2 separate regions of the Homo sapiens genome follow, and region 1 is linked to region 2. Evidence: fine-mapped expression QTL. A gene starts in region 2. The other region holds a variant in brackets. All regions are shown on one strand. Distances are between the middles of the regions.

Evidence for each region.
Region 1: its variant is fine-mapped to the expression of PI4K2A in lung (TOPMed, PIP above 0.99).

What each region holds. Positions count from the first base shown.
Region 1 is chr10:97,653,218-97,669,168 of GRCh38, reverse strand. PI4K2A (phosphatidylinositol 4-kinase type 2 alpha) reads right to left here. Exons shown (of 9, transcript NM_018425.4): 3 at 12,753-12,884; 4 at 12,195-12,348; 5 at 6,201-6,262; 6 at 4,185-4,284; 7 at 2,598-2,731; 8 at 2,049-2,108. Among named protein-coding and RNA genes, the nearest start is that of PI4K2A, 21 kb to the right of the region's middle. The variant T/C (reference allele first, on the strand shown) is at 6,278.
Region 2 is chr10:97,633,516-97,649,466 of GRCh38, reverse strand. PI4K2A (phosphatidylinositol 4-kinase type 2 alpha) reads right to left here and starts at 8,796. Exons shown (of 9, transcript NM_018425.4): 1 at 8,290-8,796. The coding sequence starts at 8,724. It also overlaps a transcript of MORN4 not described here. RefSeq lists enhancers at 438-497, 548-597, 15,614-15,703 and silencers at 8,477-8,706, 9,871-10,054.

The DNA of each region.
Region 1 (15,951 bases), 20 kb before region 2:
CCAGGCCGGGCTCAGTGGCTCACTCCTGTAATCCCAGCACTTTGGGAGGCCGAGGCAGGCAGATCACCTGAGATCAGGAGTTTGAGACCACCCTGGCCAACATGGTGAAACCCCATCTCTACTAAAAATACAAAAATTAGCCAGGTGTGGTGCCATGCACCTGTAATCCCAGCTACTTGGGAGGCTGAGGCAGGAGAATCACTTGAACCTGGGAGGTGAAGGTTGCAGTGAGCCAAGATCGCACCACTGCACTCCAGCCTGGGTGACAGAGTGAGACTCTGTCTCAAAAGAAAAAAAAAACCTCTGTCCAACCCCCTTCCAGGGAAAAATGGGCTCAGCAAACCCAGGAGGTGCTGTCATCAGAGGTCTTTAGATAAATGGCAGGAAGAAGTAAATGCAGAATTAAGGCTGAGAAGATCCTCTTGCCCTTTAAAGATGGGAGAAGCTGAATTTTCTGTATACAAAAATCATAATCCTAACAGCTATTAATACTACAAATTGAGTATTTTAGTATACCAGGTACTACTCTAACTGTTTCAAATCATTTATCTCATAATAATTCTGTAAGGTGGGTACCATTATTATTATCTTGAGACAGGTTCTCACTCTGTCCCCTAGACTGGAGTGCAGTGGTGCCATCTCAGCTCACTGCATCCTAGACCTCCCAGGCCCAAGCAATCCTTCCACCTCAGCCTCCTGAGTAGCTGGGATTACAGGCGTGCGCCACCACACATGGCTAATTTTTGTGTTTTTTGTAGAGATGGGGTTTCACCATGTTGCCCAGGCTGGTCTCCAACTCCTTAGCTCAAGTGATCTGCCCACCTAAGCCTCTCAAAGTGCTGGGATTACAAGTGTGAGCCACCATGCCTGGTCTCAGCTACTATTATTGATCCCACATTAAACATGAGGAAACTAAGGGAAGGAGAGATTAAGTAACTTGCCCAAAATCTCACAGGTAGTAAATGGCAGAGCCAGGCTTCAAAAACCCAGGCACTGTGACCACAGTTTGCACCCTTAACCACTAGGTCATCCCAACTCTCTTTAAGAAGACTTCAAAGTGATAGGCATAATACCAGTACCCTACAGAGTTTTCAAACCATTTTTCAAGCATTTCTTTACTATGCTTTGGAAGATCAACAATCCCCTTGGTTTCCTTAGCTCCCTTTGAAGGTGAAGTGGAAGGAGAAGGAATAATGTAAGTTGCACCTATAACAACAAAATTATAACCATAATCAATATGTGAGTGCTTCATGTGCCCAGTACTCTTTTTACTAAACGCTTGATAAGCATTATCTCATGAAATTCTCCAGCCAACTGTGCAACGTATTATTACTATCCTGTTTTATGAACAAGAAAACAGAGGCTTTTGCCCCAGGCCACAGAGCTTCCAAGTAGTGAAGCAGTCTGGCTCCAGGGCCCAGATCTTAACCACCAAAACATACAGCCTGCCTTGAGCAACTCTAGGACAGAGAGCATTAGTTTAATTACCAATGAATTACCTAGCAACTAGCATAGAGATGAGTGCACATTAAGTGCTTCAACAAGCACTGGATACCAGGGAAGAGGTGGGAGAATTGGGAGGGCCACTTTTCCTCTCCTAGGTGTTAAGGTACAGCCAAAAATAATGTACACAACGGACTTAAAAAAGCTGTAAAACACGGCCGGGCGCAGGGCCTCACGCCTGTAATCCCAGCACTCTGGGAGGCAGAGGCAGGTGCATCACTTGAGGTCAGGAGTTCGAGACCAGCCTGGTCAACATGGTAAAACCCTGTCTCTACTAAAAATGCAAAAATTAGCCGGGCGTTGTGACATGCGCCTGTAATCCTAGCTACTTGGGAGGCTGAGGCACAAGAATTGCTTGAACCTGGGAGGTGGAGGTTGCAGTGAGCAGAGATCATGCCACTGCACTTTAGCCTGGGTGACAGAGTGAGACTCGGTCTCAAAAAAAAAGGGGGGGGTATAAAACACAAACTTCAAACATTTGCTCAACCTGAGCACACAACACTCCCAGAGACGCCAAAGATACTGGGAGGATGTCCCAGGCTTACCTGGCCCCGCATGACAGCAATCTGCTTATGGAACTGGCCCCTGTCGAAACCAGGATCTTTCTGCAAAAGAAGACCAGAAGGAGATGGAACCTGTGTGAATGCCTCACAGGAACCCATTTTCTCCCCCAGTTAGAAACTTTCTAAGAAGGAAAACCTGCATAAGGCTTCTGCAGCTTTGTGAAGTCAACTACTCCCACAAGAACTCCCTGCTTTACAGATGAGGAAACAGAAAACAAGTCAATATCTTCCTCTGCATCTCAAACTCTAGGCTCCAGTGCTCCATATTAAAATGAAAGCCCTGCAGATACATTGCAGCCACATGATGGACAGGAGAGACACATCAGTGTGATTTCTCACCCCTGCCCATTTCTCTCAAACCCATCCAAACCAGGTCCTGCTGTCCACATGTGGAAATCTTGCTATTCGTTGGCTAACTCAAGTCAGAAAGGTGTTAGCCATTTCCTCTTGGCTTTTGTCAGGACCAATTAAAAAAACCATTAAAAATTCCTTCTCCCATATGATAATAGGGCTGAGGTTCCCAGGGCTAACCTTGAAGAGTTCATATAGGTCCTCTTCCAAGTCCTTGACGAAGTTAGGGTCCGATATCTTTGGAAGGATCAGATCTTTGATCTCCTGAGAAAATGGGACTTTCGCCTGGGGCAACCAGGCCCAGTAAAAAGGATCTGAAAAGAGGAAAAGTCAAAGGCAAAGCTGGTGTTGGAAAAGTCCCTGCTCATCTGTGTCCTCCACCAGTCAAGGCACTTTCTAAAGGAGAACCCCTCTTCCCTGACATACAACAGAAACAAAAACTTACAAGTGCTCTTAACTGTAAAGGTTACACAGCTAGTCAGTAGAGGAACCAGGGTTCAAACCCAGGGCTGCCTAATGTCAGAGCTCATTCTCAGACATTACATGACCTTCCAAGATGCAAGGTCTAGAAGCAACTACTTGCCACTGAGACGCTGAGATGGTCCTTCTGAAAAGGAAGACTAATGCTGCAAAAGGGGCTACTGACTCCCTACATTTATTTCTCCTCCTTTCCAGAAGCTTCTCAGTTACAACAGGGTAGGAGATGGAACAAGGAAGACAGAACACTGATAGGAAGCTTATATTTAGAGGCACAATTAGAATAAATTATGGAAAGACAGTCCTCAGATAACAGGAAAAAAAAAGATATTTCAGGAAATATACACTAAAACAATAAAATAACAAATTAAAAAATTAAAAAAGGGCCGGGCGCAGTGGCTCATGCCTGTAATCCCAGCACTTTGGGAGGCCAAGGCGGGTGGATCACAAGGTCAGGAGATTGAGATCATCTTGGCTAACACACTGAAACCCTGTCTCTACTAAAAATACAAAAATTAGCTGGGCATGGTGGCGGGTGCCTGTAGTCCCAGCTACTCGGGAGGCTGAGGCAGGAGAATGGTGTGAACCCAGGAGGAGGAGGTTGCAGTGAGCCGAGATCGCGCCACTGCACTCCAGCCTGGGCGACAGGGCAAGACTCCGTCTCAAAAAAAAAATAAATAAATAAAAAATAAATAGCCCTCAGCCAGGCGCAGTGGCTCACACCTGTAATCCCAGCATTTTGGGAGGCTGAGGCAGGCAGATCACCTGAAGTCAGGAGTTCAAGAACAGCCTGGCCAACATGGTGAAACCCCGTCTCTACTAAAAATACAAAATTAGCCGGGCGTGGTGGCGCATGCCTGTAATCCCAGCTACTTGGGAGGTTGAGGCAGGAGAATCGCTTGAACCCAGGAGGTGGAGGTTGCAGTGGGCCCAGATCGCACCATTGCACTCTAGCCTGGGCAACAAGAGCGAAACTCCATTTCCAAAAAAAAAAAGTCCTCAGAAAGAACGAGAAGAATGCAAAGAGACAATGAGAAAACTCATCTTTATGCTTCTAATTTCTAATCACCTTTATGCTTGTAATGGGAATCATAGAAGACAAAAATTAGAAAAACAGCTTACATTATGAAATAGTTGCCATATGCCAGCCATTGTGTTAAAGTGCCTGAACTCCATTATTTCATTAATTTTTAGAATAATCCTATGATAGAGACATTATCATCTCCACTGCACAGTGAGAAAATATACTGAGCAAGGGAAGAGCCAGACCACCATTGTCTGGAGACTTACATGCCCTCCAGGAGTCAGGATGCTTCAGTGGGAAGGCCAGCCCATTGTCTATGGCAGCCACCTTGATAACAGGCTCCTTCACCACCACCCAGTCTGTGTCCTGAAGAGCAAGGAAAGACTAATGACTGAGGAAACCCATCTCCCTCAGGCCCTTCCAATTAGTAGCAAAGCAACTCATCCCAACTCCCTCAAGAGAAGAATTCTTATTGAACTTATCTTGAGCTACTCTCTGAACTGGCTTCCATGTTGTTATCTGAACTTAGCACATTTTGGTGCCTCTGACCTGGCTCTTGTTCAAAGTTCAAGAGTCCTGTTCTTATCTTAGAAAAGGTACACTTCCCCAAGAGTTGCTACAGTCCTTGGTAAGAAGGAAATGACAATAATAAAGATAACTATAAGCCATTCCTCCTAGGGAAAGAAAATGAGAATCCTGAAAGCAGAACAGAAGAAATAAAATCCATATCAGTTGGCCAAGGTCCTTTTGTGTGGACCTTGACTCAGATGTTACTTCACTGGTGACAACTACATTTTCCAGTGAGAAAACAGAGCCTCGGAAGATAACAGCTGGCTGCTCTTGCACAAGGGAGTCTGTTCTCCTGCTTCAGTGGTGCATGAAAAGGAAAAGGACAAGAGATGAATGTAAAAAGAGTGGGCATGTCACCTGTGACAGCCCATGTCAGAGACAATCACTGACTATGTGGCTCCATGCTTCAGGTTCATGGGTGCCATCACAGGAACAAGAACTGTGGTTCCAGGATGCCTGAATCTGAATCCCCTGAGATACCTTATTAAATGTGCAGAATCCTGAGTTTTACTCCAGACCTGATGAATCAGTTTCTAAGGGAAAGGCCTGAAGAATCTGTGTACTATTTTAAATAACTCTTCAGAAGATTCAGGCACAAAATTTGAGAGCCACTATTAGAGAAAGTAAAAAAGTTATAAGGAATGAAAACCCCACCCTGGGCAACATAGCAAGACCTCATCTCTACAAAACATTAAACAACTTTTGCGCCTGTAGTCCCAGCTACTCAGGAGGCTGAGGTGAGAGGACTGCTTTGAGCCCAGGAGTCCAAGGCTGCTGTGAGCTAGGATAGCACCACTGTACTCCAGCCTGCGCAACAGAGCAAGACCCTGTCTCTTTTTTTTTTTTTTTTTTTTAATTTTTGAGACAGAGTCTTGCTCTGTCGTCTGGGCTGGAATGCAATGGTGTGATCTTGGCTCACTGCAACCTCAGCCTCCCAGGTTCAAGCCATTCTCGAGTCTCAGCCTCCCGAGTAGCTAGGAATACAAGCTCCCGCCATCATGCCCGGCTAATTTTTGCATTTTAATAGAGACGGGGTTTCACCATGTCGGCCAGGCTGGAACTCCTGACCTCAGGTGATCCTCCCACCTCGGCCTCCCAAAGTGCTGGGATTACAGGCGTGAGTCACCATGCCCGGCCAACCCTGTTTCTTAAAAAAAAAAAAAAGAAAGAAAAGAAAAAAGAAATAAAACCAATCTCACTCTCCCCTAGGCAGCCTTCTGCTAATTTTGTAAAACATGTAGACTGAACAGTGATAGAGAAGTATGGTGGAGGATGAAAGGAATGAGAAAGGAAAGAAAGTTGCAGGAGCAGCTTTTTCTAAACTTATGTTCTGTGGACTTGCGGTCTGTTGTGAGAAAAGTGGTTCATGGTTTAAAAGGGGTAGAAATCAAATTTAAATAGGTTTGTTTAACGTAGTACTTCTCAGACCTTTACTATGCTACTGTGCAATAAGAAGCTCAAAGAACAGAGTACATAATATGTTCCAAATTTACTTGACCCTTTCTTCATGCTATTCCTATTAACATGTGTCAGTAGGATGTCCTTGAAACACATATTGAGAAAAACTTTACCAAATATTAACCTATTAATTTTAAACATATGCGCCCCCCGATTCTTCTGAACTTGTATGAACTACATCTCTGACCATTTTATGTGTTTCTATATTATGCAAATACTCTTCATTCTCTTTAAGATTTATCTCAGTCTCTTACCCGAGAGCTAGAACTATCCATTGGACAGTCATATTTAATCAGCCAGTTGTCATTGCCTCGATCTGTGAACAGAAATA[T/C]AAAGTTAGCAGAAAAAGGGGGGATGATTTTCCATTTTTGTAATGGTGGACTAGGTATTCTGGACACTCGGACTAACGCTTCTACTGAGAATGACTACAAATGCTGGATAAAATATTTTTAGATCTTTTTTAAGGTACTGGAGATTTTAATAAGACCACAAAGGATTTAAGAGTGAAGATATGGGAGAGAAAGGAAATCCATGGGAGGACGTGGAGCCCAGCACTGTGGCTTCTTTTCCCCTAGAGCACCTGCCAATTTGGAAAGAGCTGGCTAAGAGCTTGAGAGGTAGAACAATTATAAGAGCCTTGTGGAGCTAGAGAGACAAAAACTATAATCCAGTGACTGATCAGGGGTAAGGGACCCTCGTATATCATCTATGCTTTGGGTTACGACCTGAAGCACTACACCTTGGAAATACACTAAGCTCCCCTCAACACCTGAAATTAAAGTGATACTGGATTGCTATTGCCCTAGATGCTTGCCAAAAGAAATCTTCCTCCAGACAGGATTTACAATGACATCTTAGGCCTTTATACAGCTCTACGATTTCTGATAGGCAGTATTTGACAATGAAAAACAACCAGGTACACAAAGAAACAAGATGACAGGAATAAAAGAGAAACAACTGAAAATTAAAACAGATCTGTAGGGGCTCCAAACAATAAAAATATACAGACTTTAAAATGTTCACAACAAAATCCTTAATATGTTTAAAAAGATAAAAGTCAAGATTAAGAATATCAGCAGAGGCTGTACCTGAAATCCCAGCATTTTGGGAGGCTGAGGAGGCAGAGAATCACTTGAGGCCAGGAGTTCAAGACCAGCCTGGGCAAAATAGCGAGACCCCATGTCTAAACAAATTGTAAATAAGATTAGCCAGGTGTGGTGGTACGTGCCTATAGTCCCAACTACTTGGGAGGCTGAGGCAGGACAGCTTGAGCCAAGTGTTGGAGGCTGCTGCAATGAGCTATGATCATACCACTGTACTCTAGCATGGGCAACAGAGTGAGACCCTGCCTCAAAAAAAAAAAAAAAAAAATCAAACCTGAATTTGATCAAGCCTTTAAACTCAAGCAGTAAATTTACAGGAAACACAGAGAATTGGGGATGCCAAATCCACAATGTGGAACTTCTATAGGGCAAATATCCAGTTTCTTCAACAAATAAAAGGCAAGGGAAAAAAAAAGATGTGAAACTTTCCCTAAATTGAAGACATTTAAGAAACATATTAACCTGGCCAGTCACAGTGGCTCATGCCTGTAATCTCAGCATTTTGGGAGGCTGAGGTGGGAGGACTGCTTGAGCCCAGGAGTTTAAGACCAGCCTGGGCAACATAGTGAGATCCCATCTCCAAAAAAAAAACAGAAAGGAAAGATATTAACCAAATGTAATATGTGGACCTTTATATCATAATTTCAACAAGCCAATTATAAAAATCTTTTTTTATGAAACAACTGGGGTAATCCAAACACTGATGGGACATTAAATACTGATTATACTGAAAAAAAAAAAAAAGTCTTTATCTCTTCAAGAACATATGGAGGTATCTATGGATGCTATAAAATGATGTCTCAGATTTGCTTTAAAATAATCCAGCAGTGGCCGGGCGCGGTGGCTCACTCCTGTAATCCCAGCACTTTGGGAGGCCGAGGTGGGCGGATCACGAGGTCAGGAGATCGAGACCATCCTGGCTAACACGGTGAAACCCCGTCTCTACTAAAAATACAAAAAATTAGCCGGGTGTGGTGGCGGGCGCCTGTAGTCCCAGCTACTCGGGAGGCTGAGGCAGGAGAATGGTGTGAACCCGGGAGGCGGAGCTTGCAGTGAACCGAGATTGGGCCACTGCACTCCAGCCTGGGCAACAGAGTGAGACTCCGTCTCCAAAAAATATAAAATAAAAATAAATTTTAAAAAATCCAGCAGTTCCAGTCAAAGCCTTAGTTGAAAAAAAAAAAAATCCAGCAGGGATGGGGGTAGCAGGAAGTGAGACCTTACATAATAACTGTTGAAGGTGGTAACAAGTACATGGGGTTTATTATACCAGTCTCTCTACTTTTGTGTATTTTGAAATTTTCCTACTAACCAGCTAAAAAACTATTTTAAGTAAACTATGGGTCAGAGAAGAAATGAACAATGGAAATTAGAAAATACAGTCTCCATCTATAAACTGAGAGGATAAAAAAAATTTCAGTATATTTTATAATGATTATGGTAAAAAAAAAAAACACTTGTAAGATACAACTAAACTATGCTTAAGATGAAATTAAAGTCTGAAGTGCATATATTAGAAAAGAAGAGCCCGGGCTCGATGGCTCACACCTGTAATCCCAGCACTTTGGGAGGCCAAGGCAGGCAGATCACGAGGTCAGGAGTTCAAGACCAGCCTGACCAATATGGTGAAACCCTGTCTCTACTAAAAATACAAAAATTAGCCGGGTGTGGTGGCATGCACCTGTAGTCCCAGCTACTCGGGAGGCTGAGGCAGGAGAATCACTTGAACCTGGGAAGTGGAGGTTGCAGTGAGCCAAGATCATGCCACTGCAATCCAGCCTGGGCGACAGAGTGAGACTCCGTCTCAAAAAAAAAAAAAGGCCGGGCGCGGTGGCTCACGCCTGTAATCCCAGCACTTTGGGAGGCCAAGGCGGGCAGATCACGAGGTCAGGAGATCGAGACCATCCTGGCTAACACGGTGAAACCCCATCTCTACTAAAAATACAAAAAATTAGCCGGGCGTGGTAGCAGGCGCCTGTAGTCCCAGCTACTCGGGAGGCTGAGGCAGGAGAATGGCGTGAACCCGGGAGGCGGAGGTTGCAGTGAGCCGAGATCGCGCCACTGCACTCCAGCCTGGGTGACAGAGCGAGACTCCGTCTCAAAAAAAAAAAAAAAAAGAAAAGAAAGAAAAAGAAAAGAAAAGGAAGGGAAAGGAGAAAAGGTAAAAATCAATACTCTAAGAGAGAGGATTCTGGGAAGATGGTGGAGTAGGAAACAACAGAAATCTGTCTCCCCACGTGGACAACAATTGTAGTGGCAAAAATCTGTCTGATGTAATTATTTTGGAGCTCTGGAGTCTATGGAGGGCCTGCAACTTGCAGGGGAAAGCCTGGACAGTAAATTGTGGTTAATTTCATTCAATTTTGGCTCTTAGCCCCACAAGCAGCTACCCATCCCCCACCCTTCAGCCACATGGCAGCCAGATGTGCACAAGTTCCAGGAGCAGCTTGCAAATAGCTTGAGGGTGCCAAGGTGGGCAAAAAGGACCCTAACATCATAATGGTGAAAGATTGCAAGGTTTTCCTCTAAAATCAAGAACAGTGAAAAGATGCCTGCTTTTACTTCTATTCAACATAGTACTGGAAGTCTTAGAGCACTGAAGCAAGAAAAAAGAAATAAAAAGCACCCAAATTGGAAAAAAAAAAAGAGGGAAAATTATGTCTGTTCATAGATATGATTGTGTAGGTGCATAACCCTAAAATTTCCACACAAAAAAATAACTACTAGAACTAATAATTCAGGAAAGTAGCAGCATACAAAGTCAATCCACAAAAAAATCAGTTGCAAGCCAGGCGCAGTTGTTCACACCTGTAATCCCAGCACTTTGAGAGGCTGAGGTAGGAGGACTGCTTGAGCCCAGGAATTCGAGACCAGTCTGGGCAACGCAGTGAGACCTCATCTCTACAAAGAATTTAAAAACTAGCCAGGCGTGGTCCTCACACCTGTAGTCCCAGCTACTCGGGTGGCAGAGGTAGGAAGATCACTTGAGCCCAGGAGTCCGAGGCTGTAGTGAGCTATGATTGTGCTACTGCACTTCAGCCTGGACAATAGAGCATAACTCTGTCTCTTTAAAAAATAAAACTAAAGGCAAGAGATTGAGAGAAAATATTTGCAAATTATATATCTGATACGGGATTAATAGCCAGATATACAGAGAACTTTAAACAAATGTATAGAGAACTCAACAATAATGACCAAAAAAAATTCAAAAATAGGCAAAGGACTTAAATAGACAGCTCCAAAGAAGATATATGATTGGCCAATCAGCACATAAGAAGATGCTTACCATCACTAATCATTAAGGAAATGCAAATCAAAACTATAAGATAACATCTTACACCCATTAGGATGGTTACTATCAAAACAACAGAAAACATTCAGCAGAATGCAGATTAAATATGAAAAGGAAAAAACAGAAAACAGTAAGTGCTGGTGAGAAATTGGAAGGAACCCTCGTGTGCTGTTGGTGGGAATGTAAAATGGCACAGCTGCTGTGGAAAACAGTATGGTGGTTCCTCAAAAAATTAAAAATAGAATTACCATATATGATCCAATAATTCCACTTCTGGATATATACTCAAAAAAACTGAAAGCAGGGTCTTGAAGAGATATTTGTACACCCATGTTCATAGTAGCATTGTTCGTAATAGCTAAAATGCAGAAGCAACCCAAGTGTTCACTGAAAGATAAATGGATAGACAAAATGTGGTATATACATAAAATGGATCAGTATTTATCCTTAAAAAGGAAGGAAATTCTGATATATACTACATCATAGATGTACCTTGAGAACGTTATGCTAAGTGAATAAGCGAATCACCAAAAGACAAATACTGTACTATTCCACTTACATGAGGTACTTAGAGTAGTCAAAATCATAGAAACAGAAAACAGAATGATTGTTGCCAGGGACGTAGGGAGGGGGAATGAAGAGTTACTGTTTAATGAGTATAGAGCTTCAGTTTTACAAGATGAAAAGAGTTCTGGAGGCCAGGCATGGTGGCTCACACCTGTAATCCCAGCACTTTGGGACACTGAGATGGGTGGATCACCTGAGGTCAGTTCAAGACCAGCCTGGCCAACATGGTGAAACCCCATCTCTATAAAAACACAAAAATTAGCCATGCATGATGGCGGGTGTCTGTAATCCCAGCTACTCAGAAGGCTGAGGTGAGAAAATCACTTGAACCCAGGAGGCAGGGGTTGCAGTGAGCTGAGATCGCACCATTGCACTCCAGCCTAGGTGACAGAGCAAGACTCGGTCTCAACAACAACAAAAAGAGCTCTGGAGATGGATGGTGGTGACAGTTGCACAACAATATGAATGTATTTCATACTACTTTAAAATGGTTAAGATAATAAATTTTATGTTACATGCATTTTACTATGATTAAAATATCGGACAAAATATAGCTCCAATAAGGTGACTTTAGAGACTTTTTTTTTTTTTTGGAAACAGAGTCTTGCTCTGTCACCCAGGTTAGAGTGCAGTGGTGCAATTCTGACTCACTGCAACCTCCGCCTCCCAGGTTCAAGCGATTCTCCCACCTCAGCCTCCTGAATAGCTGGGACTACAGGTGCCCGCCACCACACCCGGCTAATTTTTGTATTTTTAGTAGAGACAGGGTTTCACCATGTTGTCCAGGCTGGTCTGGAACTCCCGGCCTCAAATGATCTGTCCACCTTGGCCTCCCAAAGTGCTGGGAGTACACGCATGAGCCACCACATCCAGCCTGAATTTAAAGACTTTTGTCCTCAATACATGTACATTTTACCAGGTTAGTTGAATTTAAATTGCACTGAAAAAAAATTTTTTTTAAATATCAATGATCTAAACATCTACCTCAAGAAGTCAGAGGAAGACAAAACTGTCCTGTTACAGGTCTTGAGGCTACAAGAATGACTAGGGATCAAGGATAAGAGTACTCTTCACAGTGCTTTGGAAGAGTTAAGTGTCTTCTGTCTGGAACCAGGAAAGAGTGTAAGATAAAATGCAAATACTAACTCCAGGCCTCACCACTTCTGAAAACTACACATGATGTGTCTGGACAAGGTACTCTGACTCCCAAGCCCTGCAAGCCTCCAGGCCTCCCCATGCCTCAACACAGTCTGGCACAGGGCATGGGACCACCTGCAGCTGCTCACCAGTGTTGCGGATGATGTAATCCAGCACCACCAACCGCTCAAACTGGAGCAGTAGTTGCCGGTTAGTGTTCTCAGGAAGAGGTTCTGCTTCAAAACGCCGCAGCCAATAGTCTGCATCTTTGTAGCCTTCAACAAAGAGCTGGAATGAACCAACCTGGAACCAAGAGGAAGGAACAAAGGTTTTTCCCTACTGCCCAAATCCAAAGACCTTTGGAGTATATGCCAGATACCCATTAAGGCCCTATGGAGTTTGTATCAGAGAAGGAAAACTTTTCAAGATCTTTACTTCCTCATTTCTTGCAAGTACAGGAGAAAAGAGATGTAACAGTGATCATCCATCCAAATTAAAGAACCTATCCAAATGAACCAGAGGAGTAAAGTGAAAAGTTAGGTCTCAACTTTTCAAACCTTAGCCACTTGACAGAAATAAGGAAGACAGGATCCTCAGGGCAGGTTATTCACGTGCCCATATTTGAGTTGTAGGCACCTTGCTTCACCACTTGGATGACTATGTCACTATAAATCATGACCCTTGATAAGCCAGAGGTGCGTCTATACCTTTGGTGGTAGCCCGATGCGGTTAAACCGCTGTCCAACTTTTGGCACTTTCTCTAGTGCAAGCCGCTTGCCCCTGGACTTCACTCGGTCAATGGCACTATAGTTGAAGGTCTCACTGGCCAGGTATACTACCTACAGTGAAAGAGAAGAGATACTAAGGTTAGAGTCAAGTTTAAGGAACCAGAAGACTATGGCAGAGAATAAATAGCTTGATGTTCACAAATCCTATTCCTCTTCCAGGGCACAGAAAGAATACATTTCTCAGCCTTCCCAGCAACTAGGAGAGGGAAGATAACTAGTTTGGGCCAATGAAATAATGACAAAATTATGTATGTACAACACTTCCACTGCTGGCAACTAAAATCTCCCACAATCCTTAATTCACATTCTCCAGTCTGTGCAGCTAGGAAAGAAGGGCTGGGAAATAGCAGAGCCACACCATGGAAGAACCTCGGATACCTTGTAACTACATGAGTGATGTGGTATCTAGGAGAGCTGCCTATCTGGCATGAGTCTGAGATGTAATCAAGAAATACACTCCTGGCCAGGCGTGGTGGCTCACACCTGTAAACCCAGCACTCTGAGAGGCCGAGGTGGGCAGATCACTTGAGGTCAGGAGTTCGAGACCAGCCTGGCCAACATGGTTAAACCCCGTCTCTACTAAAAATACAAAAATTAGCCAGGCATGGTGGTGCACGTCTGTAATCCTAGATACTTCGGAGGCTGAGGTGGGAGGATGGCTTGAACCTTGGAGGCAGAGGTTGCAGTGAGCCAAGATCGCACCACTGCACATTCTATCCTGGGTGACAGAGGGAGACTCTGTCCCAAAAAAAATATGATAAAAAAGAAATACAATCCAATTGTATTAAACCACTTAGATTTAAGGGTTGTTACAGCAGCTAGTATGAAGTACAAGGATTAACACTGTCATCTCCTGGGTTAGATTAGGCCAAATGCCCATCTTCTTTCCAGAGACAAACAAGTTGCAATTTACTCTGTACCCCTTCATTTCCTTTTGAAAAAAAATTTTTTTTTTTTTTTTTTTTTGAGACAGAGTCTCACTCTGTTGCCCAGGCTGGAGTGCAGTGGCACAGTCTCGGCTCACTGCAACCTCCAAGTCCCGCATTCAAGCAATTCTCATGCCTCAGCCTCCCAAGTAGCTGGGATTACAGGTGTGTGCCACCACTCCTGGCTAATTTTTGTATTTTTAGTAGAGAGAGGGTTTCACCATGTTGGCCAGGCTGGTCTTGATCTCCTGACCTCAGGTGATCCTCCTACCTCGGCCTCCCAAAGTGCTGGGATTACAGGCATGAGCCACTGTGCCCGGGCCCTTTTGAATTTTTTTACTTTGTGAAATTATTCGTATTCAAAACACAAACATTAAAATTGGTTTTCATTTTAATTAACTGCTATTTTTATGTATAGGCTATACACTGTAATCCTGGCTGCCTCTGAGGAAGGAAACTGAATGGCCAGGAGATAGGGGTAGCAGGGAGTCTGAATTACTTTTCTCTGTTTACCCTATGTGCCTTCTGATTTTTATACTAGATGCATGCATTACTTATTCTAAAAAAAATTTTTATGAGCCATCAATATTATACTTAAGTCAAATTGCAGTGACGTAATTGTAATCCACATATGCATCTATTGTCACACTTATCACATTGTCTTGTAATTATCCATTTGTATATCTAACTCCTCCTTTAAAATGAATGAGATTTGAGGAAGCGGAGAACATCTTATTTATATTAGCATCCACAGCACCTAACACAGTAGCTGGCATATGCTCATTAAATATTTATTAAGTGAATGAAGAATGAGTTACAAGCTTCTTTCAGAGACAGCAACAAGTGAGTTTTAGCATATAAATACCTAAAATCAAACTTATAAGAAAGGTATTTTCCTAAGCCTTGTAAAATTTATTACAAATAACTATTTTTTTTCCCATGAACCTGAGAGGCAAAATAACTGCCTCTCATCTATCGCTCCATGCTACCATCTAGTATTAATAGACTACCTAAAATGGATGTGCATGGTACTGTAGTAGGCACTCCCTGCCTTACAAATCAGAAAACTCAGGCATAGGAATGAAGGAAAAAGAGCTTTCCTAAGGCTACCTTGCCAGTGTCCACAGTGAAACTCCTGGCTCTCTCAAGCCATAAATCCCCTTTTGCCCCCATCATATTTATTTTCTATCATTCTTCCTAACAAACCACTTTTTCCCCATGACTAATGAAACTATCATAACCTGAAACCTCATAGGAGCAGAGAGCAGAGACAGCCAGTGAGTGAGAATTAGAGCCTTACCATTTGAAGTTCCAATGCAATGTGAACCTTGTTTCTATAATGACAGATGCTCTGATCAACTGGATAGAGTCCTGTCACAAGAGTTGGGGAGACAGGGAGAGGAGTCCTCTTACTATTCTCCAGCAGCTATATGTTAAGCTTCCAAAGTTCTGTCTCATCTCAGTCTCATGGAAGACAAGTATTTTTTTTTTTTGAGACGGAGTCTCGCTCTGTTGCCCAGGATAGAGTGTGGTGGCACAATCTCAGCTCACTGCAACCTCTGCCTTCCAGGTTCAAGCGATTCTCCTGCCTCAGCCTCCCAAGTAGCTGGGATTACAGGCACGCACCACCATGCTCAGCTAAGTTTTGTATTTTTAGTAGAGACAGGGTTTCACCCTGTTGGCCAGGCTGGTCTCGAACTCCTGACCTGAGGTGATCCACCCACTTAGGCCTCCCAAAGTGCTGGGATTACAGGCGTGAGCCAATGAGCCCAGCCAAGACAAGTATTTTTGTTGTTGCTGACTTTCTGATGCAAAAGATCCTCAGGCCTCGTGAAGGTTCTCTAACAGGGAAAGAGGAAGACCAAAGATAGGGACGAAAGGGATTGTGGGGGTGACACTAACGATTAGAATAGCTGATAAAAATATCACAGGCTAACATATGGAGGGTTTACGTTGTGCCTGGCACTCACTCAGCTATGTGCTTCATATAGGCTGTCTTGTGTAATATTGATGGCCACTCTACAAAGTAGGAACTATTTATATCCCTATTTTTACAGTAAGGAAACTGAGCCTAGGGAGGTTACATGACTTGCCCAAGTGTTACACAAATCAAAAACTGCAGAGCAAGAATTCAAACTCAAGTCCTCTGATTCTTGGGCACCACACTCCAGAAGCACCAACAGAGCAGGTAG
Region 2 (15,951 bases):
ATAGGCAAGAAACCAGGACATGAGATGCCACACAGATTAAATCCATCTTCTATAGCAGACAGTAACTTAATCTTCTAAGGTCTTTGGAAATATGGGATGCCTAGAAACTATGGCCCTCCCTCCTGAGTGTTTTCTTCAACAGGCCAGTCAGCCCTCTGAGGTTGTTTTACATTCATCTAATTCCCTCCAGTCCCCAAACTGGTAATTCAAAGGAAAAAAGCAAATATGCTATCCAAGTGATTCATCCTCATATCATATGACTCTCCTTGTCCCCTCACCCCACAGCCTACTCAAGCTAGTCTGGGTCATAAGATATTTTTCTGTGGGTGTCACTTCCTGAATGGCAGGTCACAGCAGACAACATACACCCATCTGCTTTTACCAACTCAGTACTCATATTAGGAACTAGCTAGGTCCATGTCGCTAACAATAACTGGTCGATCTTGAAGCCAGCTCCTTTAAAAATGCCTTCCAAGGATTTGAGAGGACAAGAAAAATACAGAACTCCTCCTTCTCCCTCCAAAAAGAATCAATTTATTCTTAAAGACAAACTAACTTATTTACTGGCAAATGCAAAATGCATATATTCACATCATAAGTCTTCAGAATTACTTTCTTATGCAAAGCAGCTAGCTAGAGTCCTCAGCAGTCTTCTCTGTCTCTGCTCCCCTGGAACCCCAGCCTCTGAATAACAAAGCAGCAGTAGCAACAGGCTCACAACTCAGAGAATGACTGACGAGTCCACTGTAACCCTCCGGACCCTGGACAGGGAAACCAAAAGGCAACTTGAAGCATGTCCCAGAACGCAACAGTCAGTTCAACTGAGGCACATTATGGAGTTCAGTAAGCTGGTCCTCAATGAAAAGGAGGCCAAGACACTCCTACTACTACTGGGGGCTGAAAAATACCAGGGCTGAGGTCAACTGGTAAATACTTCTACTTAAAGACAGAAAAAGTTGGGCATGGTGGCTCATGCCTATAAGCCCAGCACTTTCAGAGGATGAGGCAGGATTGCCTGAGGCCTGGAGTTTGAGACCAGTTTGGGCAATACCACAAGACTCTGTCACTAATTTTTAAAAATTAGCCGGGAATCATGCCTGTAATCCCAGCACTTTGGGAGGCCAAGGAGGGTGGATCACCTGAGGTCAGGAGTTCGAGACCAGCCTGACCAACATGGAGAAACCCCATCTCTACTAAAAATACAAAATTAGCCAGGCATGGTGGCACATGCCTGTAGTCCCAGCTACTCGGGAGGCGAGGCAGGAGAATCGCTTGAACCTGGGAGGTGGAGGTCGCAGTGAGCCGAGATCATGCCATTGCACTCCAGCCTGGGCAATGAGCGAAATAGCATCTCAAAAAAAAAAAAAAAAAAAATTAGCTAAGTGTGGTGGTATGCACCTGTAGTCCCAGCTACTCGGCGGGGAGAATCCCTTGTGCCTAGGAGATCAAGGCTGCAGTGAGCTAGAAGCATGCCACTGCACTGTAGCCTGGGTGACAGAGCAAGACCCCATCTCTAAAAAAGAAAAATTAAACAACAACAACAAAAAAAAAGCAAGCAGAACTTGAAGGCCAAGATTGCAGTCAAGTGTCATTTAAAGACTGACCTCTCAAACATCTTGATTTCCTTCTACCATAAGGAGAATAAGAAGCATTTCAATGACTCCAAAAGCATGAGTAATTATGGTTATGCAATAGTACAGGGGTTTTATTAAAGAATACTGCCTGGACTAGATCAATGAGGGAATGTTAGAGTATGAAGAATGGAGGAACAAAAGGGCATTCAGACAGAAGGGGAGACAAGTGCCTTTCAGGACTAAGTGTAAGCCTCAGTTCAATTCAATTATGTTAGCATTTGCTCAGGACCTAGCCTGTGGAGAACGATGTGCAAGCATTCTGCAGGCATTTGGTGGCTTTCCTAGACAGAGAGGTAAAATACCCTCTGGCCTAATTTCCAATGTTCACTTCATAAAATCAACTATGCTACTGAATAATCAAGAATACTCTTCTCATTCATGGAGAACAAACTCTAAAACCACTCAAATTGGAAAGACACCCACCAGTATTTAGCTGGAAAAGAAAATGACTACTGCCTAATTTTTCCTCACCATCCACTCTCTTCTTTAATATTTTGTGTTTTTTTTCTCTTAATAGATTTTCAATTCCTTTATTATATCTAGGAGAGAGCTTCAGTTTGATGCCAATATTATAAAAACAACTTTTCTTAACACCCATTTACTAATCTCCCCTTTTAACAAAGGAGGGGTGAGGTACAGATAGCTTAAGCAGTAGCAGTCCATGAAGTTGGGAATAAAAACCAAATCACACAAGAAAGCAAGAGGCCATGCACCAGCTGGTGTCAGAACCCACAACCAATTACTGGAACCTGAGCCCAGCGCAGTGGCTCACACTTATAATCCCAGCACTTGGGAGGCCAAGGCAGGTGGATCATTTGAGGTCAGGAGTTCAAGACCAGCCTGGCCAACATGGTGAAACCCCATCTCTACAAAAAAAAAAAATAGAAAAAATTAGCCGGGCATGGTGGCATGCACCTGTAGTACCAGCTACTCAGGAGGCTGAGGCGGGAGAATCGCTTGAACCCAGGAGGTGGAAGTTGCAGTGAGCCAAGATCACACCACTGCACTCCAGCCTGGGCAACAGAGCTAGACCCCCCTCTCAAAACAAACAACAACAAAAAATTACTGGAACCTGGAACCCAGCGGGGTTCCTATATCTAATCAGCAATGACAAGGAGGAGGGTGTCATGCTATGCTAAAAGAGGTCCTTTCTCCAAGAACCTAAAATGTAAGACAGTTCAAGCATATCATTCACATCGCACAGTGAAATATACAGAAATTACCTTTTATAAAAGTCTTCTTTTAAAGTTTCATAAACATTAAGTGGATAGTTCTCAAACGTTTTGGTCTCAAAAAGTTTAAACTCTTAAAAATTAGGCTGGGTGTGGTGGCTCATGCCTGTAATCCCAGTACTTTGGGAGGCCAAAGCGGGTGGATCACCTGAGATCAGGAGTTTGAGACCACCCTGGCCAACATGCTGAAATCCTGTCTCTACTAAAAATACGAAAATTAGCCGGGCATGGTGGTGGGCGCACCTGTAATCCCAGCTACTTGGGAGGCTGAAGCAGGAGAATTGCTTGAACCCAGGAGGCAGAGGTTGCAGTGAGTCGAGATCATGCCTGATCTAGCCTGAGCGACAGAGTGAGGCTCCATCTCAAAAAAAAAAAAAAAAATTATTAAGGACTCCAAAAAGCATTTGTTAATGTGGGTAAAGGCTATATCTCATATCTTAGTATTCAATCTGTTTCAATATCACACATCATGTAGTCTCTGGAAATCTCCACTCTCCACTCCTAAGTAAATGAGAATGAAAAAGGCAAATAAAGTCTTAGAATTATGATGAAAATAATTTTGACCTGTGGACCCCAAAAAGGAACTCCCAGAGGTCAAGATCCCTGGGCCACACTCTAAGAACTGCTGTATTCTATGGTATAGGTTGGAGGAAAATAGTAGTCCTTGATTTAGCTATTTAGGTAGAGAAGCCTTATTTACAAGTTCATTCTTACAAAAGGAAGGGAAGGGCTTGTTGAAATATATAAAACCATCCAGGCACAGTGGCTCACACCTGTAATCCCAACACTGGGAGGCCAAGGCTGCAATGAGCCAAGGTTGTGCCACTGCACTCCAGCCTGGGCGACAGGGTGAGAAACTGTCTCAAAAATATATATATAATAAAATATAATAAAATTATTTTACTAAAACGTTAAGAGGCAGTCAAGTTTGTCATACATGTAGGTCTCGAGATTTTAAGCATCATCTACCAACTTTTTTTTTTTTTTTTTTTTGAGATAGAGTCTTGCTGTCTCGCCCAGGCTGGAGAGCAGTGGCACGATCTTGGCTCACTGCAAGCTCCGCCTCCCGGGTTCACGCCATTCTCCTACCTCAGCCTCCCGAGTAGCTGGGACTACAGGTGCCCGCCACCACGCCCGGCTAATTTTTTGTATTTCTAGTAGAGATGGGGTTTCACCATGTTAACCAGGATGGTCTCTATCTCCTGACCTTGTGATCCGCCCGCTTCAGCCTCCCAAAGTGCTGGGATTACAGGCGTGAACCACTGCGCCCCATCTACCAACTCTTATAGCCTTATTCGATACCATGTACCCCAAGAACCCTAATTAAGCAGTTAGTAGGAATGTTTTTAAAAATCTGATTGAGCTGCCCCAACTAAGTGCCAGGAACTACGTCAGGGCTTTCATGTGTGATATGTCATTTAATCCTCTTAACCTAGTGAGTCACATGCTGTCCTATGATTCTTGGCAATGTGAAAATCTAGTATTACTCCACGCAAAAGAGAAAAAGCTCAAAAAACCCTTTTGCAGTTGAGTGAGCATGAGACCTGAAGCACAAGGAGGTAAGTGAGGGGGGTATGTGTATACTCTCCCCATGACTTCTAGCATTTTCCATCTGTTCTTGGACCCCACTGAGACAGAAACCATCCAAAATTGAGAAATGGGACCAGGGCTGTTATCTTCAAGAATCTTTCAGACTGTCTAAGATCCAAAAGTGGCTGTCGCAGAAAGTGCTGGTTCTCCCAATCTCTGTTCCCCCTTGTTCCCTAGACACAAGACCCATGATTTTTACCTGGGCGAAAAAAGAAAAAAGACTATAGTTCCCAGCCACTACTACAGCTAAGTTTTAGACAATGGAATGTAAGTAGAAGAGTCTCCTACAACTTCTACGAAGTGCCTTAAAGGATGGGGGCATATTCACCCTCTCCCTTTCCTTCTTCCAAATGGCTGAAAAGCAGACAAGATGTTTGCAGCTTGAGCGGCCATCTTGGACCATGTAGTAGAAGCCATATCCTAAAGATGGCTGATCAGCTGGCAGGAAGAACCCTATGTCTCCAATAAAGTGAAATGTCATGCCAGCCCTGAGCATGCCTGAGCAGCTAGCCTATAGACTTCTTTTACATGAGGTGTAAATGAACCTTTTTTCAAGTCATCATTATTTTAAAATATCTGTCACATATAGTCAAATTCAATACTAACCAATATAGTAGCTGAGAAGAGAATTTAGAAATTCTTTTCTTTTGTTTTGTTTTTGAGACGGAGTCTCACTCTGTCGCCCAGGCTGGAGTGCAGTGGTACGATCTCGGCTCACTGCAACCTCCACCTCCCAGGCTCAAGCAATTCTCCTGCTTCAGCCTCCCGAGTAGCTGGGATTACAAGTGCCTGCCACAGTGCTCGGCTAATTTTTGTATTTTTAGTAGAGATGGGGTTTCACCATGTTGACCAGGCTGGTCTCGAACTCCTGACCTCCAGTGATGCGCCTGCCTCGGCCTCCCAAAGTGCTGAGAGTACAGGCGTGAGCCACCGCACCTGTCCAGAATATGGAAATTCTGATGACTGACTCTGAGGGAGCAAAGGATAGTGGTGAGAACATGAACTCCACAGCCAACCCGCCTTGGCCCAATCCTGCCTCTACCACTTACTAGGTGTGAGACCTTGGAAAAATTTGTTATACCATGGGCTTGTGTTGTCACCTGCGGGGATAATAACAGTACCTACCTCCAAGGGTGGTTATAAAGATTAAGTGAGTTATTATTTGTAAAGCACTTAAAGGAATATAGTAAATGCTATGTAAGTATTTGTTTAATAAAGTAAATACATTTGGAGGAGAGCCAAAGATGACAATTCCAACTACAGTAAGTCTGTGGGCCAGTCTAACCCACCGCAAGCATTTAGAAAGTGCCCTTTGTTCTAAATCACATTTTCTTCACTGGAAGCAGTATGAGTACGTCAAAAAGTTTTGTCAGGGCATCTGTGTTTGGACTTCCCCTATGAGAAAGGATAGTGGCCAGGAAATTTTAGAGACTGGAATCCCTAAATCACCAAGTAACATACCTATGGTCTGTCCTTCTCTGTGGCCTATGTACTGAGATGGTAGTACTTTACCTGCCAGGTAGAATTAAGAGATCGTATTACTTCCATCTGTCAAAGCACCAGCTCACTTCTCAGCTGACCTAACCCACTTCCAATGCAGCTCTAACAGTGTCATGAAAGAAAAACAAAAATATTCCTCCTTCTCCTGTACCTATCAAAGATAATCTTAGCCCCTTCTTACATTTGCCAACAAACTAAAAATACCCTCTGCCCACAAAAAAAGGACAGGCATGGTGGGTCACACCTGTAATCCCAGCACTTTGGGAGGCTGAGGCAAGAGGATGACTGCTTGAAGCCAGGAGTCTGAGACCAACCAGGGCAACATGGCGAGACTCTTGTCTCCATGAAAAATAATTTTTAGCCGGGTGTGGTGGTGCGTGCCTGTAGTCCCAGCTACTCGGAAGCTGAGTGGGAGGACCTTGAGCCCTGGATGTCAAGGCTGCAGTGAGCAGTGAGACTGCACCACTGCACTCCAGCCTGGGTGTCAGAGTGAGACCTTCTCTGAAAGAAAGAAAGACGAGAAAGAGAGAATGAATGAAAGAAAGAAAGAAAAAGAAAGAAAGAGAAAGAAAGAAAGGAAAGAAAGGAAGGAAGGAAGGAAGGAAGGAAGGAAGGAAGGAAGGAAGAAAGAAAGAAAGAAAGAAAAAGAAAGAAAGAAAGGAAGGAAGGAAGGAAGGAAGGAAGGAAGGAAGGAAGGAAGGAAGAAAGAGAAAGCAAGCAAGCCTCTGGCTGACATTTAAACCTCAGGGCACTCACATTTCTTTGCTTCTAGAAATGATGGTTCCCACTTGAGCTTGCAAGCTCTTTTATTTAAGAAACTTGGAGGCCGGGCGCGGTGGCACGCCTGTAATCCCAGCGCTTTGGGAGGCCGAGGTGGGCAGATCACAAGGTCAAGAGATCGAGACCATCCTGGCCAACATGGTCTCTACTAAAAATACAAAAATTAGCTGGGTGTGGTGGTGCACGCCTGTAGTCCCAGCCACTCAGGAGGCTGAGGCAGGATAATTGCTTGAACCTGGGAGGCGGAGGCTGCAGTGAGCTGAGATCGCGCCACTGCACTCCAGCCTGGCGACAGAGCAAGACTCTGTCTCAAAAAAAAAAGAAAAAAAAAAAGAAAAAGAAACTTCGAAAGACTTATTACTCGCAAAGCTTTCCCCAACTCAGTTTATGTAAACTGAGAAACTGAGTTCATGGCAGAATTGTTCTCTAATTCTTGATTAATTCAGGGACGACTCAAACTCTGAGTGAATAACTAGATCATTCAATGAGCCGAACCAAGAGCTACAAGTAACAGCCCGTCCTGGCCACTCAGGACTCCTATTAAAACAGCACCCTGGCCATCTAAAGAGTTCACACAGGAGAGATGTCAGGGAAAATCTGAGGAAACTTTGACACCCATAATTTAAATAACAATACATCTTTCCAATGACCCATTGCAGCACACCTGAAAATTTCCCTGAAACTTCCCTGAAAACAGGGAAGACTTGGTATTTCTTAAATTCTGCAGTTCTCAAAAGGATAAAGGTCACTTCTCAGATACCCTGGTCACTCCATGCCCCATCCTATAACCATCCCCCTTTATATACAGGCAGGGGACAAAATAAAGGTCGGCAAACGCTCTGCCTTAGTTGAAAAGCAGGCTGTTGATAGCCCTGGGAGAGAAATGAAAGAAAAAGTAGCTGATGGCCCCATGTTTCTAAAACTCCAAGTTCTATCTAAACTTTGGAGTCGTCAAAAAGTATTTGAACCCTTTCCCAGAAGTGAGCAATACCCAGGGCAGATGAAACTGGTGAGTCCGCCCATTCTTTCTTCAACGTCTGTTAATAAGAGCTGGGACGGTGGCAGGGGACATCCCCCACAACATAGAAGGCTGGAACTGAATTCTCAGATCCCCTGATAGGTCACCCATCCTCCTCCGTGAACAGCGACACACTGGTTCGGTCGGTCCAAAAAGAGAGAACAGGCCTAAAGCCCCAAATCTGCAAGTCGGCGGCCGAATAGCTGTCCCAGTAGTGTGAAGCTAAGTACCCTACTAGAAAGCAGTCTCTGTCCAGCGGCGGATTGCCCCACCACACCGCTGAGCCCCCGGCCCGTATCTGGTCAATTTCCTCTTTTCATTTTCCGCTCACTCCTCCCCCACCAAGTAGGTTCTGATTTATTTCTCCATTCCGCAGAGCGTCCCCAGCTCCAGTCCTCAGTGGCATCCCTAAATCCTGCCAGGGGCTGGTACTGTGAAGTTTCTCCCTTTTCCCTCTGGCTGTGCGAAGCCCCCAACTCCCCAGGAGCGCCGCCGGCCCTCAGCCCGCGGCGGCGGTCCCCACCCCCGCACTCACCCCCTGAGGGTCCTTGACGAAGTAGCTTCCGCTGGAGCCCTGGTAGATGCGCTCGGGAAAGATGCAGCGCTCGATGGCCAGCTCGGCCTGCCGCACCACCGCCTCGAACTCAGGATCCTCCGGGAACTCGTTCCGCTCGCGGTGGGCCTGAGCGGCGTGGGCTGCCGCCGCGGCCTGAGCGGCCAGAGCCTGGGCCTGCGCCGCCACGGTTTGGGTCTGGCCCTGGGCCGCCGCGCCCCGGGCCCGATCCAACAGTGGCTGCCGCTCGCGGTCGTGGCCCGGCGAGCCCGGCGGAGAGGGGCCCGAGCCGGCCGCCGCCGCCACTCGGACCGCGCCCCCGGGCACCTGCGGAAAGTGAGCGCCCGAGCCCGACGGGAAGGTGTAGTCCGGGGGTTGGGCCCGCTCGGGGGACACTAGTGGGCTCGTCTCGTCCATCCCTCAGACAGCCGGCTCCGGGACCCGGCGCGCTCCACACCACTGCGCTCGCGGCCGCGACCAATCCGTGACATCCCCCAGGCCCCGGCCGGCCAACCAGGTCGCGACGCCTCCTTGGCCCCGCCTCTAACCTGCCCTGTTTACTTGGCTACGAATAGGCACGGCCCCTCGCGCGCGAACAGTAGCCAATCAGAACCTGCTCCTACGCAATCGCTGCCTCCGCATTTTTCTCCCCGTCACCTTCTGTGAAGACTGCGCATGCTCCAGGACCCAACCTTGGGTCAGGCACGCCCCCTGCCCCTACTATACCAGCGCCACGCTTAGCTTCCAATTGGCTTACTGGACTTGGGCGCTTTCAAAACAGCAACTATCCTGTCAGTCACTCATTGAGTGCCTACTCTGAACCGGCTGTGAGATTGGAGGAATCTCATCTATGTATCCTCATTCATTCAGTCAGGCACTCATTCATTTATTGAGCACGTACTATGTTCTAAGTGCTAGGGAGACAGCAGTGAAGCAAAGAAACAAAGCTGCTGCTCTACCTCGATGAAACGTTTTTTTTGGGGCGGGGGGTTTGTTTTTTGGGTTTGTTTTTTTTTTTTTTTTGAGACAGAGTGATCAGTCTCCAAAAAAAAAACGACAGAGGTCAAGTGATCTGCCCACCTCGACCTCCCAAAGTGCTGGGATTACAGGTGTGAGCCACTGCGCTTGGCCTGGAAGTAGGTTTTTAAAGGAAAAGAGGCAGTTCCTAACTTGTTTACCAAGAATTTACATTAAAATAACAAGTTATAGATTGGCTATACATTGTACTTTGTATCCCAAATTCGTATCTCAGTTGACCTAACATACTTCCAATGTAGATGTAACAATGTCAGGTTACACTTCAAGTTCGCAGGAACTTGAAGGTAATGGGTGAAGTAGCCAGTCAGGATAAAATGTCTTAACAATTGCCTCCAGGTTTTCCTAGGAAGCCCTGAAGATTTCTTTTTAAAATATTATTATTATTTTTTTAGAGTTAGGTTATCTCTATGTTGCCTGGGCTGGTCTTGAACTCCTGGCCTCAGGCGATCCTCCTCCCTCAGTCTCCCAGAGTGCTGGGGGATTACAGGTGTGAACCACCCACAGTGCAGCCAAAAAATAAAAAATTTTTAAAAGAAAAAAACCCGCCAGGCACAGTGGCTCACGCCTGTAATCCCAGCACTTTGGGAGGCTGAGGCAGGCGGATCACCTGAGGTCGGGAGTTCAAGACCAGCCTGACCAACATGAAGAAACCCTGTCTCTACTAAAAATACAAAATTAGCCGGGCATGGTGGCACATGCCTATAATCTCAGCTACTCGGGAAGCTGAGGCAGGAGAATCGCTTGAACCCAGGAGGCAGAGGTTGCAGTGAGAAACTCTGTCAAGAAAGAAAGAAAAAGAGAGAAAGAGAAAGAAAGAAAGGGAGAGGGAGAGGGGCAGGAAGAAATAAAGAAAAGAAAGGGAAGGAAAGAAAGGAAAGAAAGAAAGAAAGAAACCATTGCCCCAGAGTGTGGGTGTGGAAGGCATGACTGAAGTCCCATACTCATGTCTTTGAGCCAATAGACTGTGCATACATCACACAGAGCTCAGACTGCTCTAAGCTATCTTTCCTTCTCAACCTTATAGGAATTCAAGGCCAGCCTGGGCAACATAGCAAGACTCCATCTATTTTTTAAAAATTAATTTTTTTAAGGAGTTCCTAGGAAAACCCAGGGGCAATTGTTAAGACATTTTATTCCTGACTCGCTGCCTCACCCATTATCTTCAAGTTCCTGTGAAGATACAAACTTGTGATACAAAGAATAATACATAGCCAATTAATATCTTACACTGTGCCTGGCCCAGCTGCTCAATGCTTATTTGTTAATTGAAGAAAAATATGGTCCCATGAGCCTAAGAAGTTCTTACCACGAGGTAAGAGTCCATTGCTTTTACTCACACTGTTAAATCTCAGTGTCTAGACACAGTAGGTGCTCAGTACATTATTATTCATGAGAAAGGGAAGGAAGATAGAGTCCCTGCCCTCAAGCTGAAGGCATGTGGCTTTCTGAGGCAGTAGGAGAAAAAAAAGCAAAATGAGCTCAAAACTCCGTAACAGTTCACCAATTAACTGAGGCAGGCTGCAGGCTCAGCAAAGGCTTTATTTTTTTTCTAATTTTTTTTTTCAACCAGAATGCTCAAGGATCAAGCAAAGGCTTTAAGTGGGTCATGTGCTATGAGCTGAGTCTTAAAGAAAGAGTAATTAGATTGCTGGAAAAAAAGGAGACAGGAAAAAAATGTTACACCAAGCAGGAGTTACCTGAGTAAAAGAGGAAGGCTAGGGCATATAGGGAACAGAGAGCAACCTTCTTGATTCGAGGGGAAGCAGAGTTAAACTGGGTTACCAAGGGCCTGGAAAGTAGAACAGAACGAGACCAGCCTGGGCAACATGGTGAAACCCCGTCTCTACTAAAAATACAAAAATTAGCCGGGCTTGGTGGCACATGCCTGTAATCCCAGCTACTTGGGAGGCTGAGGCAGGAGAATTGCTTGAACCTGGGAGAAGGAGGTTGCAGTGAGCAGAGATTGTGCCACTGCACTCCAGCCTGGAACAACAAGAGCGAAACTCCATCTGAAAAAATAATAATAATAATAAATTCATGGAATACTGTTTCAGTTAAAATTTATACAAACAAGCCAGGTACGATGGCTCACGCCTATAATCCTAGCACTCTGGGAGGCTGAGGCGGGTGGATCACCTGAGGTCAGGAGTTCAAGACCAGCCTGGCCAACATGGCGAAACCCTGTCTCTACTAAAAATACAAAAAAAAAAAAAAAATTAGCTGGGCTTGGTGGCACACGCCTATGATCCCAGCTATTTGGGAGGCTGAGGTGTGAGAATCGCTTGAACCTGGGAGGTGGAGGTTGCAGTGAGCTGAGATCGTACCCCTGCACTCCAGCCTAGGCGACAGAACAAGAATCCGTCTCAAAAAAAAATGTATGCAAACACTACCTTCAAAAGTGTAGAATGTACATCCAGGCTTGGTGGCTCACACCTGTAATCCTAGGGGAGACCAAGGCGGGTGGATCACAAGGTCAGGAGTTTGAGACCAGCCTGTCCAACATGGTGAAACCTCGTCTCTACTACAAAAAATTAGCCAGGCATGGTGGCAGGCGCCTGTAATCCCAGGTACTACGGAGGCTGGGGCAGGCGAGTCGCTTGAACCTGGGAGGTGGAGGTTGCAGTGAGCTGAGATCGTGCCATTGCACTCCAGCCTAGGCAACAGGGCCAGACTCCGTTTCAAAAAAAAAGTGTAAAATGTAATGGTTGGAAGCATGGGCTTGGAAATCAGAGACATTTGAGTTTGAATCCAGTCTCCATGATGATCAGTTGTTTTAGACAAGTTATATAACCTCTCTAAGCCTCAGTTCCTTAATCTATAAAATGGGAATAATCATCCCCATGATTACTGAATCAAGAATCAATATAATGTTATGTAAAGCACTTAGCATATGAAGCATGACTCTCTAATAGGAAAAATAAAAATAAAGCACTTAGCATAGTGTTTTGTACATAAAGAGCACTCAACATATGGTAGCTTTTTGAAAAAAAATCACTGCTGATGTTACTGTTGATGTTGTTTTTGTTTTTATGCTTAAAGTCACCAGCAGACTAGAGGTATGGGCTTTCACGAATCATGGCCAGTCACATAGTCACCAATATTTCATAATCATTCTTTCTTGAATCAAATTATTGCCACTGCTAACTAGAAATACCAAATTGAAAGCACTATTGTTTAATTATATGTATGGGAATGTCTTAAACATTTTTGGCCAGACAAACCATTCTAAACAAAAGTCGTACAGAAGGTTAAATTGCCCCTTTCAGTTATAATACATGCACTTCCTTTTCCTATCTAGACCTCAATAATCAACTGATGCCTGGCTCTTGTGGCCCAGGGTCTGTAGCCACATAGATAATCTTTTGGTATCATTCATCTCATTTAGCCCATAAGCTTCAAATTATGGTAAAGGAAAGGTCCCAGATTTAGAGTTCTCCCTGGAATTCTGAGTTTTTTCTCCACAGAAACCCCTCAGAGTCTTTTATTTTATCTAAAAAAATTTTTTGGCCAGGCACAGTGGCTCACGCCTGTAATCCCAGCACTTTGGGAGGCCGAAGCGGGTGGATCACGAGGTCAGGAGTTCGAGACCAGCCTGGTCAAGATGGTGAAACCCTGTCTCTACTAAAAATACAAAAATTAGCCGGCTCTGTCACTCAGGCTGGAGTGCAGTTGTGCAATCTCAGCTCACCGCAACCTCCGCCTCCCGGGTTCAAGCGATTCTCCTGCCTCAGCCTCCTGAGTAGCTGGGACTACAGGCGCGGGCCACCACATCCGGCTAATTTTTGTATTTTTCAGTAGAGACGGGGTTTCACCATGTTGGCCAGGATGGTCTCGATCTGTTGACCTCATGATCCGCCCACCTCGGCCTCCCAAAGTGCTGGGATTACAGGCATGAGCCACCACACCCGGCCTAGACATTGTTTTAAATGCATTACATGGATTAACTCATGGAACCAGCTTTATAGTATCCTGTGATGTTGGAAACCCAGACCCAGGGAGGTAAAGGTAATGTGCCCATGGTCATTCAGCTGGTAAATGGCAGAGCCGGATCCAAATCCAGGCAGACTGTTTCCATGCTCTTAACACTATGTTGATTCTTATTAAATATCCCTATGAAATATGTCTCATATTTACCCCCTTTCTTTCATCTCCACTGATGCTACATGAAACTTCCAGGATGTGTTAGTTGCATTATTACAATAACTTCTGAGTTTGTTACTTTGCTTCCAATCTCTCACTGGTCATCTCTGAGTGTCACTGTCAGATTAATTTTCATAAAATACTGCTTGTAGTGTGTCATTCCCCTGGCCAAGAAACTACATTTTATTTATTTATTTATTTATTTATTTATTTATTTATTTATTTATTTATGTTTTGAGACAGGGTCTCTGTTAACCAGGCTCAAGCAGTTCTCTTGCCTTAACCTCCCGAGTGCTGGCACCACAGGCACTTGTCACCACACTCAGCTAATTATAAAGGCCATAAGAGTAACAATCATGGCTTTTCAAGCCTGACAGAACCTAGCATCATGCTGTACTCACATTGTTTAAGAAATAAACATATGGATACACAGATTGATGTGAGTGGTATTTGGGAAGATTTGCTCCAATCTTGGCACTATATTTTATTTATTTATTTATTTATCTAGTGAACCAGAAATAAAATTATAAGCCCCCCAATCAAATGAATGGCCTCCTCTTCTGGGCCAAGGGCATTCCTAAATTAACCTGAAAAACTATTTGAGGCCATGATGAGAAGTGGGAGTCAGACATGCCTCATTATTTTCTCCTGCTTTTGGAATTCAGGACCAGCATTTAACATTAAAGCAGAGATCTTAAGGTTGACACAGCAGACTCTTTGTAGCAATGATACCAACATTGACAGATAGCAGGCCCCATCTGTCATGATAGCAGGCAAAGGTGTCTTTTATGGTGAAAATCTACATTCTGTAGAAAATCCCCTTCCCTTTCCAGGTCTTTTTCCTGATCCAGGGGAGAACTAACTAAGAGTCTGATACCTTTCTAAATCTGATAATAAACACTGGCCAGCCTTGGTGGCTCACACGTGTAATCCTAGCACTTTGGGAGGCAGAGATGGGAGGATCACTTGAGCCCAGGAGTTCAATACCAGCCTGGGCAACATGACAAAACACCATCTCTACAAAAAATACAAAAATAAGCCAGGCATAGTGGAATGAACCAGTAGTCTCAGCTACTTAGGAGGCTGAGGTGGGAGGATAACTTGAGCCTGGGAGGTCAAGGCTGCAGTAAGCCGTGATCCAGCTACTGCACTCCAGACTGGGTGACAGAGGGAGACCCTGTCTCAAAACAAAAAAAAAAATAAAGAAACATTTACAATCTATGCTCTCTGGAGCCTGCTACCTGTAGCCTTCTCTGCATAATAAAAACCTTGATTTCCACAATTCCTTGTGTGTGTGTGTGTGTGTGTGTGTGTGTGTGTGTGCGTGCATATCTTAGTAACAATTCCTTAACTTAACCCAGACATTCCCTTCTGTGGGTTCCAGGTCTTTAAACTCTTTCAACCAATTGTCAATCAGGACATCTTTGAATCCACCTACATCCTGGAACTTGCCACCCCCACCCCCACTTTCGGGACCAAGCCAATGTATATTTTACATGTATTGATTGATGTCTTACGTCTCCCTAAAATGTATAAAATCAAGTGGTGTCCCGACTATTTTGGACACACATTCTTAGGACCTTCTAAGGCTGTGTCACGGGCATGTCCTTAACATTGGCAAAATAAACTCCTAAATTGATTGAGACCTGTCTCAGATACTTTTTGGTTTGCAATTTATTTATTTGAGACAGGGTCTTGCTAGGTCGCCCAGGCTGGGGTACAGTGGCAGAATCATGGCTTATTGCAGCCTCAACCTCCTGGGCTCAAGGGATCCTCCCACCTCAGCCTCCTGAGTAGCTGTGACTACAGGCACCCACCACTAGGCTGGGTAATTTTTTTCTTCTGTAGATACGGAGTCTCCCTGCGTTGCCCAGGCTGATCTAGAACTCTTGGGCTCAAGCCTCCCGCACTCCTGAGCTCAAGCCGCGGCCTCCCGAAGTGCTGGGATTACAGATGTGAGCCACTGCGCCTGGCCAGGTACTATATTTTAAACAAAAAGGATCTAGATAATGACAAGGACAGCACAAATTCCTATAATGAATGCAAAAGTGTCTTGATATCACAATGTCTAGCACAGAGTTATTGGAGGCTATCCTGCCTAGCGCGTTACAATTTACAAAGCTGCCTCTCTGAAGCTGGATTTAGGATCTGCCTTAAACTCCGCGGCGGGGCCCTTGACAGCAGTGGGGACTGGAGCAAGATCAGAGCCGCTCGCGTTGATGGTCACTGTTGCTTCGGGCGCAGGTTTGGTTTTCTTTGGGGTTGCCATTTCAACTAGACGGCCTCTGGGTAGGCCAGATCTGGATCCTCTGTCTTTATCTGCGTTGCAGAGGTGGGACCACCCCTCTTTCACATAGTCAGCCCGGGTTCGCAAACACTCGGCCCCGCACAAAGATGGCGTGGAGCCGGGCTGGGCCAATGCGGAGTGGCGTTGCTCCCGGTTGCCTAGGTAACAGCCAATGGGCA